Regions from separate parts of the Homo sapiens genome. Here all the other regions are reported to be linked to region 2. Evidence: microRNA targets listed by miRTarBase, many of them from high-throughput screens and not tested one by one. Region 2 holds a microRNA gene; each other region holds the end of a gene's coding sequence.

Region 1 (3,000 bases), not on the chromosome of region 2:
GAAGGAGGTAATCTGTCGCTAATGTGTATTTATTCCTTCATGCATGTATGCATTCATACCCTGGGATTTTTTTCTTCCCTTTAGCTGTGTTCCAGATCATCTCCCTGGTAATTTACCCCGTGAAGTACACCCAGACCTTCACCCTTCATGCCAACCCTGCTGTCACTTACATCTATAACTGGGCCTACGGCTTTGGGTGGGCAGCCACGATTATCCTGATTGGCTGTGCCTTCTTCTTCTGCTGCCTCCCCAACTACGAAGATGACCTTCTGGGCAATGCCAAGCCCAGGTACTTCTACACATCTGCCTAACTTGGGAATGAATGTGGGAGAAAATCGCTGCTGCTGAGATGGACTCCAGAAGAAGAAACTGTTTCTCCAGGCGACTTTGAACCCATTTTTTGGCAGTGTTCATATTATTAAACTAGTCAAAAATGCTAAAATAATTTGGGAGAAAATATTTTTTAAGTAGTGTTATAGTTTCATGTTTATCTTTTATTATGTTTTGTGAAGTTGTGTCTTTTCACTAATTACCTATACTATGCCAATATTTCCTTATATCTATCCATAACATTTATACTACATTTGTAAGAGAATATGCACGTGAAACTTAACACTTTATAAGGTAAAAATGAGGTTTCCAAGATTTAATAATCTGATCAAGTTCTTGTTATTTCCAAATAGAATGGACTCGGTCTGTTAAGGGCTAAGGAGAAGAGGAAGATAAGGTTAAAAGTTGTTAATGACCAAACATTCTAAAAGAAATGCAAAAAAAAAGTTTATTTTCAAGCCTTCGAACTATTTAAGGAAAGCAAAATCATTTCCTAAATGCATATCATTTGTGAGAATTTCTCATTAATATCCTGAATCATTCATTTTAGCTAAGGCTTCATGTTGACTCGATATGTCATCTAGGAAAGTACTATTTCATGGTCCAAACCTGTTGCCATAGTTGGTAAGGCTTTCCTTTAAGTGTGAAATATTTAGATGAAATTTTCTCTTTTAAAGTTCTTTATAGGGTTAGGGTGTGGGAAAATGCTATATTAATAAATCTGTAGTGTTTTGTGTTTATATGTTCAGAACCAGAGTAGACTGGATTGAAAGATGGACTGGGTCTAATTTATCATGACTGATAGATCTGGTTAAGTTGTGTAGTAAAGCATTAGGAGGGTCATTCTTGTCACAAAAGTGCCACTAAAACAGCCTCAGGAGAATAAATGACTTGCTTTTCTAAATCTCAGGTTTATCTGGGCTCTATCATATAGACAGGCTTCTGATAGTTTGCAACTGTAAGCAGAAACCTACATATAGTTAAAATCCTGGTCTTTCTTGGTAAACAGATTTTAAATGTCTGATATAAAACATGCCACAGGAGAATTCGGGGATTTGAGTTTCTCTGAATAGCATATATATGATGCATCGGATAGGTCATTATGATTTTTTACCATTTCGACTTACATAATGAAAACCAATTCATTTTAAATATCAGATTATTATTTTGTAAGTTGTGGAAAAAGCTAATTGTAGTTTTCATTATGAAGTTTTCCCAATAAACCAGGTATTCTAAACTTGTTTCCAGTTTGTAGTTTTTCCATTTTTCAAATCTGGGGAAAGGAATTAAAAAAAAAATGGGTAATAAGAACATGGGATATAATGAAAAGTGGTTTTTGTTTGTTTTTTTGTTTGAAGTTTTAAGGGCCTTGCTCATTTTAGGTGTCCAAAACCAATTTTTGAGTGGAGATTAATGAATTCTAATAGTCTATTCCCTGAACTTTTCCTCAATGAACAATACCCTAGACACACATTAAACAATTTCTCTGCAGTGCTATCAACCAGAGGAAAATGGACTAAGAGATTTCTGGCAGGTTCAGACACCCGGGGGACATGTGTGCAGTGTAGCTGAAGCCTCCTCCTTGTGCTGGGGTCCCCTTCCATTCAGGTGGTGGGGTAGCAGTCTCTCTATTTTCCCCTTGCCCTCCTTCCCATTTTATCATTTGTTATTTTTTTTCCCACCATAAGTCATATGTTACTTCCACTATGGTGTATGTCATTGTGAGGATGGGTGCAGAGAGGCTGGGTGGGAGAACGGAAATATATCTCCCTAGGGCTACTGTTGGCCAGCTAGTCCTTGGCAGTGAATTTTTCTATGCTTTTCAAAATGCGAGGTGAATGTTTCTCATAGAGAAATGTAATCTGGGTGATTATACCAAAATTGAAAAGAAAAACCCACACAACTATGCCGTGGCTGGTGGAGAATTTGAAGTGGTCATTAAAAATGTTAAAAATCCCATCTTTTAAAGTGATACCACAGCTCATTCAAGAAGATACTGGATATCTAGAGATTAAGAAACGTGGTCTCCTGTTAAACATGAAAATGACTCCGTTTATAAGCTTCTCTACCACATGCACTTGTCTTTGCATGATTTCCCATCCAGCCTTCTTCCCCTCCTCAATCACACAATACCTTAACGGCGCACATTTAGGAAAAATGCAACCTCCTGGGACCAACGAGCCTGATATAATAGAACCATGTCAACCTAAAGTATTTATGACAAAGATAAACTCTTATTTTGCAGAAATGGTCTGCTTCCTTCAGCCTTGTTCTAGTATAGAGATCTGCCATTCCTTGTTGATCCAGATTCACCAAGACAGATACCTTTATGTCATAACAGAAGGGAAGTTCCAGAGGATTCTGGAGAGTAATGAAGAATTGGGCTGAGAAACCACCTGAAGGCTAACAGTGCATTGCATGAGATTTCCCACAGTAAAGCTGAGGTGCTTTTTGGTTCAGTAATTAAATATTGAGTTCCCACCCTTTAAATAAGCAGTTCTAGGTTCCTAAGCAATTATTTCACTCTGTAAGTAGCCAGACATGCTAAGTGGCACTTACTGCTGATTGTAACAAAGAAGTAATATATCAAGGTCTTTCCATGTTCACACAAGGTAGCTTGTGTGTAATAACTTAGCTTCAAAACCATAGACTGCAGAACTCACAAGTTCA
Region 2 (3,260 bases):
CTGGAAAATCTGAGGTGATTAGAAACTGGAGCAGACCTCCTGCATATTCCAGCAGCCCAATGGAAAAGTGGCCAGACTTTTATATATGTTTGTTACATGTTTTCTATATATTACATGTTTTCTATATGTTACATGTTTTCTACATGTTACATGTTTTCTATATGTTTGTTACATGAGTCCCTGTTCCCGTATCTCCTCACTGGGCAGGTTCTCCCAGCCTGGGTCTCCAGCCTTTCCCCACTGGAGCTATTGAGCCAGTAGCAGTTCTTCAGCTCTCTGGGACAGAGCTCCCAGTGGGAGGGGTGGGTTGCCATCTTTGCTGTCTCACAGCCCTCACCCTTCTTGTCTCCAGGCTCTAGAGAGTCCATGGGGACCCGGCACTGGTCTGAACCCCCAGCACAGAGCATCCACCTAATGGAAAAGTGTCCATACTGTTCTCCACGCAGGTCCTGGTCCTCACTTCTCTTCACTGGGCAGAGTTACCAGGCCCAGGACTCCAGTGCAACCACTCTGCCCCTGCCTGACCGCTTCAATCAGAGGCAGCCCAGCAGTTAAGAGAACACCTAAATGCAGAGATGAGAAAGAACCAACACAAGAACTCTGACAAGTCAGATGACCAGAGTGTCTTATATCCTCCAAATGACTACACTAGTTCTTCAACAAGGATTCTTAACCAGGGTTGGCTGGAATAACAGAAAGAAAATTCAGAATACTGATAGGAACAAAGATCATTGAGGTTCCAGAGAATGGCAAAATCCAATCCGAGAAAACTAACAATCAAAATAAAATGATACCGAAGCTGACAGATAAAATAGCCAGTATAAAAGAACTCATCTGATAGAGCTGAAAAACAAACTGCAAGATTTTCACAATGCAGTCACAAGAATTAACAGCAAAATAGACCAAACTGAGGAAGAAATCTCAGAACTTGGAAGACTGGCTCTTTTAAACACGACAGTCATATACAGATAAAGAAAAAATAATGAAAAGGAACAAATAAAACCTCTGAGAAATATGGGATTATATAAAGAGGCCCAAACTATAAATCACTGGCATCCCTGAAAGGGATTGGGGGAAAGCAAACAACTTGGAAAACATATTTCAGGATATCTTCTGTGAAAACTTTCCCAACCTCACTACAGAGGCCAACAGTCAAATTCAGGAAATACAGAGAACCTCTGCAAGATTCTCCATAAGAATATCATCACCAAGATACACAATCAGACTTTCCAGGGTCAAAATGAAAGAAGGAATGTTAAAAGCAGCTAGAGAGAAAGGGAACCCCATCAGGCTAGCAGCAGACCTCTCAGCAGAAACCCTACAAGCCTGAAGAGATTGGGGGCCTATATTCAACATTCTCAATGAAGAAAATCTTCAACCAAGAATTTCATATCCAGCCAAACTAACCTTCCTCAGTGAAGAAGAAATAAGATCCTTTTCAGATAAGCAAATGCTGAGGGAGATCATTACCACCAGATCTGCTTTACAAGAGATCTTGAACGAAGCACTAAATATGGAAAGACCATTACCAGCCAATTAAAAAAAAACACAAGTACAGAGGCCAGTGACACTATAAAGCAACCACACAAACAAGCTGGCATAAAAAACAGATAACAATACAATGACAGAATCAAATCCACACATATCAATAATAATCTTGAAGGGGTCTTGCTTCTTTAACCAGCTTGTCACTCTGTGCCCCATTTAAAAAGCATATAGTAACAAGCTGGATAAAGAAGCAAGGCCCAATGGTATGCTGTCTTCAAGAGACCCATCTCACATGCAGTGACATCCATATGCTCAAAATAAAGGGATGGAGGAAAATCTACCAAGCAAATGGAAAACAGAAAAAAGCAGGGGTTGCAATCCCAATCTCAGACAAACAGACTTTAAACAAACAAAAATCAAAAAAGACAAGAGCGTTACATAATGGTAAAGGGTTCAATTCAACAAGAAAACCTAACTCTCCTAATACGTATGCACCCAACACAGGGACACCCAGATTCACAAAGCAAGTTCTCAAGAGACCTGCAAAGAGACTTAGACTCCAACACAATAATAGTGGGAGACTTCAACACTTACTGACAGAACTAGACAGATGATCAAGGCAGAAAATTAACAAGGATATTTCAGACCCAAATTCAACACTGGACCAAATGGATCTGATAGATCTCCACAGAACTCTCCACCCCAAAACAACAGACTATACATTCTTCTCATCACCACATGGCACATATTGTAAAGTCAACCACACAGTTGGTTATATAACAATTTTCAGCAAATGTAAAAGAACTGAAATCATACCAAATTCACTCTTGGATAGCAGTGAAAATCAAGACTACAAAAAACTCAAAACATGCAGTTACATGGAAATTAAACAACCTGCTCCTGAATGGCTTTTGGGTAAATAATGAAATTAAGGAAGAAATCAAGAAATTCTTTGAAACTAATGAGAACAAAGATACAACATACCAGAATCTCTGGGACACAGCTAAGGCAGTGTTAAGAGGGAAATTTATAGCACTAAATTCCAACTTAATATCAAAAGTTAGAATCATCTCAAATGTATAACCTAACCCTGCAACTAAAAGAACTAGAGAAGCAAGAGCAAACCAACTCCAGAGCTAGCAGAAGACAAGAAATAACCAAAATCAGGGCTGAATTGAAGGAGATCAAGACATTAAAAGCCATGAAAAAATAAGCAAATCCAAGAGTTGGTGTTTTGAAAAACATTAATAAGGTAGTCCACTACCTAGACTAATAAAGAAGAAAAGACAGATCCAAATAAACACAATCAGAAATGACAAATGGGATGTTACCATTGACCCCACAGAAATACAAATAACTATTACAGACTATTATGAACACCTCTATGCACACATGCACACAAATTAGAAAACCTAGAAGAGATAAATAAATTCCTGGACACATATACCTTCTCAAGACTGAACCAGGAAGAAATTGCTTCCCTGACCAGACCAATAATGAGCTTTGAAATTGAATCAGTAATAAATAGTCTATCAACCAAAAAGTCCAGGACCAGATGGATTCACAGCTGCATTCTGCCATTAAAATAAAGAAAGAAGAGCTGGTACCATTCCTACTGAAACTATTCCAACAAAATGAGAAGGGACTCCTCCCCAACTAATTCTGTGAGGCCAGCATCATCCTGAAACCAAAACCTGGCAGAGACACAACAAAGAAAACTTCAGCCCCATATCCTTGATGAACACTGAGGCAAAAATCCTCAACAAAATACT
Region 3 (3,000 bases), not on the chromosome of region 2:
AAAATCAGTGGAGTCAGAATAAAGAAGTCAAAGACATATGTAATTTTTCCTACTGTTTCCGGAATAGTCTAAGGGCTGTCTGTGGCCTTTGTCACAAAAGAAAGCTATTCAGTGAGACAGCAGGTGCCCAAGTATTGCTGAGGCTACAGAAGACTTTAGGCTGGAGCTCAGGAGCTGCGTATCTGCATCCACACTGGGGGAAGTTCCAACATGGACACAGGTTCTGAGAGCCTGACTCCTACAAAAGGAGGGGAGAATTTGGATACCCAAAGAAAAACTGGATTTATTAAACCAAAGGGACTCCCTGCCGTCACCAACACTGTTGATGGCCAGGGACCACAGCCTGGCTCTAGTTCTCATTGACTCTTACAAAGCCATTGCCAGGGCAGCAGTGGCTAATCAGATGAGCATTTTGTGGCAGACTAGTCACTTGCAAATGCCATCCCCTTTCTATATCTACCATCTGGTCACCAAATGGTCACTGGAGAAAGGGCACAGGCACAAATCATGGGCAATTGGGGCTTGACCAAGGGAAGGTCACCCTAGCCTGATAGTGATGGAGGCAGAACTGCCAGTAGAAGAAAGAAGAAGGTAATTTAAAGTCTTGCTCTGGTTTTACCCATTCTAGGTACTTAAAAGTTCATTGATAATAGTTTGTGTAAAATTGGGGAAAATGGGCATAGAAGACACCCACTCTACTCACCTTTCAGAAGGGATGTTGCCAGAAATTGGACCAGAAGTCTCTTTAGTTTTTTATCACACAAAGCAATTGAGAATGAAAAAAAGAGAAAGATAGGGGCTTAATAGTGAGAAGTATCCCAGCTTGGTGAACACCTTGTTTATTTTTAAATTTTTTAGAGACAGGGTCTCACTGTGTTGCCCAGGCTGGTCTTGAACTCCTGAGCTCAAGCCACCATTCTGCCTTGGGATTACAGGTGTGAGCCACCATGCTGGGCCCAGTGAAAATCTTGTTAAACTCTCCTAGCCTTCCTTCCTTGAAGACTGGTTTGATTCTGGTGCTGGCGTATGGGCCTGGGATTCAGTTCCTTTTTTGGCCAGCCTAGACGTTTATTCTGTGCCTGAGCAGATGCGTTAAGCTTAGAAGCAGACATCACGGCCACCTCAGGCCCATGCCATTGTGGGCTGTATCCCCTAAAGTGCCCCATTAAAATCTTGGCCTCCTTGTGCTCTTTTCAAATAAGAGACCCCTGTTCCATAATATGGCCCAAACTTCTAGGACGGGGGCACTCAAGGATGGGGAATTTTCCTCACTGACAGGGTTTGCTATGTCTGTGGGTAAACCCAACAGAGGATAAGGCTGGAACATCTGGGTTTGGGGCTTACCTGGTTCTTTTCAGTGTCATAGAGTGATAGTGGAAGGTTTAAAAAAAAGATAGGGAGGATGTATCCACCAGGGCTTTGGGCATTTTCTTGATGAACTTATTCCTTTGGCTTCAGTGAGAATATCTATCATTTACTTAAGAGAAGGCAATGAGCTACGTGGTTTAAAAAACAAATAAAAGGCTGAGTGCAGTGGCTTATGCCTGTAATCCCAGCAGTTTGGGAGGCTGAGGCGGACAGATCACTTGAGCCCAGGAGTTGGAGACCAGCCTGGGCAACATGGTGAAACCCTGTGTCTACAAAAAATATAAAAATTAGTGAGCCTGGTGGTGCACACTTGTAGTCCTAGCTACTTGAGAGGTTGAGATGGGAGGATAGCTTGAGCCCAAGAGCTTGAGGCTGCACTGAACAGTGATTATGCCACTGCACTCCAGCCTAGGTGACAGAGTGAGAGCCTGTCTCAAAAACAAAAACATTCCTTGTTGCCTCTCTTTGTGCTTTTCTTTTTTTTTTTTTTTTTTTTTGAGGCAGAGTCTCACTCTGTCACCCAGGCTGGATGGAGTGCAGTGGCGCGATCTCGGCTCACTGCAAGCTCCGCCTTCCAGGTTCACGCTATTCTCCCGCCTCAGCCTCCCGAGTAGCTGGGACTACAGGCACCCGCCACCACGCCCGGCTAATTTTTTGTATTTTTAGTAGAGACGGGGTTTCACCGTGTTAGCCAGGATGGTCTCAATCTCCCGACCTCATGATCTGCCCGCCTCGGCCTCCCAAAGTGCTGGGATTACAGGCGTGAGCCACCGCGCCCGGCCTCTTTTTATGCTTTTCAAGGCTTTTCTTACCCAGGCCTTGCTCCCCTTGCCCTCAGACTACCATTTTCACTCCCTTTGAGCTGGTTATCCAGGGGAAATGGATCCAGGCTGCTATGAAGATTATCCACCAGGGAACCCCGACACCCTCCTCACCCAGCCTCTCTCCTGAAGAGATCATGAGCTGAGGGCATGCGAGGAAAACTCCCAGCTGTTTCTGCCCTTAAGTTAGAGGACAGAGGAAATAGTTTCTATACTTAAGAAGATAGAAATATTTTCATTCCAAAGCTATAAGAATTATGAGCAGACGAAGCTATGGCTCTGGCGGATGGGCCATTTTGGGAAACAAGATACAAGCAAGGGCATAATTTACAAACAAAGTGTGGGTATATTTGGCAGGTTTGAGGCAAGCAGAAAGGAGGGTTTGGGTACTCTATAAAAAAAGATCTGAAATTCAAACATCTGATAAGGCCACAATGAAGAGATTTCCAGCAGTGGGTGTTGCAGGATGCTGGCACCCAAATCGCCGCAGGCTTGCAAAGGTGCTATGCAAGGTGAGGAGGCAGGTGAGGCAGGCAGTGCCTCTCACAGGTCCATGTCTAGGCCTCCTGAGGATGTCTTCAGCGGCACTGAGTCAAATCCATCAGGAGTCCTCTGAAAGAGAGATGGTGACAGGAGCTGGCTGCTGCACAGGGGCAAGTTTGGGGACAAAGGAGAGAAATGGAAAATAGGTGACAGAAGGAACCCTTATGAAATTCCTGTTTCAGTGGCTTTGTGGAAACACAGAAATGAGATACCCTCTATTCTGCTTGCTCCCTTCAGGGTCAGTTGGAGAACAATAAAAATCTTTTTC

Evidence for each region. Region 2 holds the annotated microRNA hsa-miR-5586-3p (CAGAGUGACAAGCUGGUUAAAG, at 1,675-1,696, opposite strand). A microRNA usually pairs through its seed, bases 2 to 8, with sites in the 3' UTR of a target mRNA and lowers its output. Matches are read on the target gene's strand: a 7mer-m8 pairs with bases 2 to 8, a 7mer-A1 pairs with bases 2 to 7 and ends in A, and an 8mer does both.
Region 1: miRTarBase lists PERP as a target of hsa-miR-5586-3p. Seed matches in the 3' UTR shown: 7mer-m8 at 2,851-2,857.
Region 3: the mRNA of ELAPOR1 is a reported target of hsa-miR-5586-3p. Seed matches in the 3' UTR shown: 7mer-m8 at 1,786-1,792 and 8mer at 1,364-1,371.

Annotation. Positions count from the first base shown.
Region 1 is chr6:138,089,353-138,092,352 of GRCh38, reverse strand. PERP (p53 apoptosis effector related to PMP22) reads left to right here. Exons shown (of 3, transcript NM_022121.5): 3 at 85-3,000. The coding sequence ends at 311. Among named protein-coding and RNA genes, the nearest start is that of PERP, 17 kb to the left of the region's middle.
Region 2 is chr14:59,645,288-59,648,547 of GRCh38, forward strand. MIR5586 (microRNA 5586) reads right to left here and starts at 1,733; the gene lies at 1,675-1,733. All of the region lies in intron 3 of RTN1 (reticulon 1), which reads right to left.
Region 3 is chr1:109,202,745-109,205,744 of GRCh38, reverse strand. It overlaps ELAPOR1 (endosome-lysosome associated apoptosis and autophagy regulator 1), which reads right to left. Exons shown (of 22, transcript NM_020775.5): 22 at 1-2,801. The coding sequence ends at 2,733. Among named protein-coding and RNA genes, the nearest start is that of SARS1, 9.7 kb to the left of the region's middle.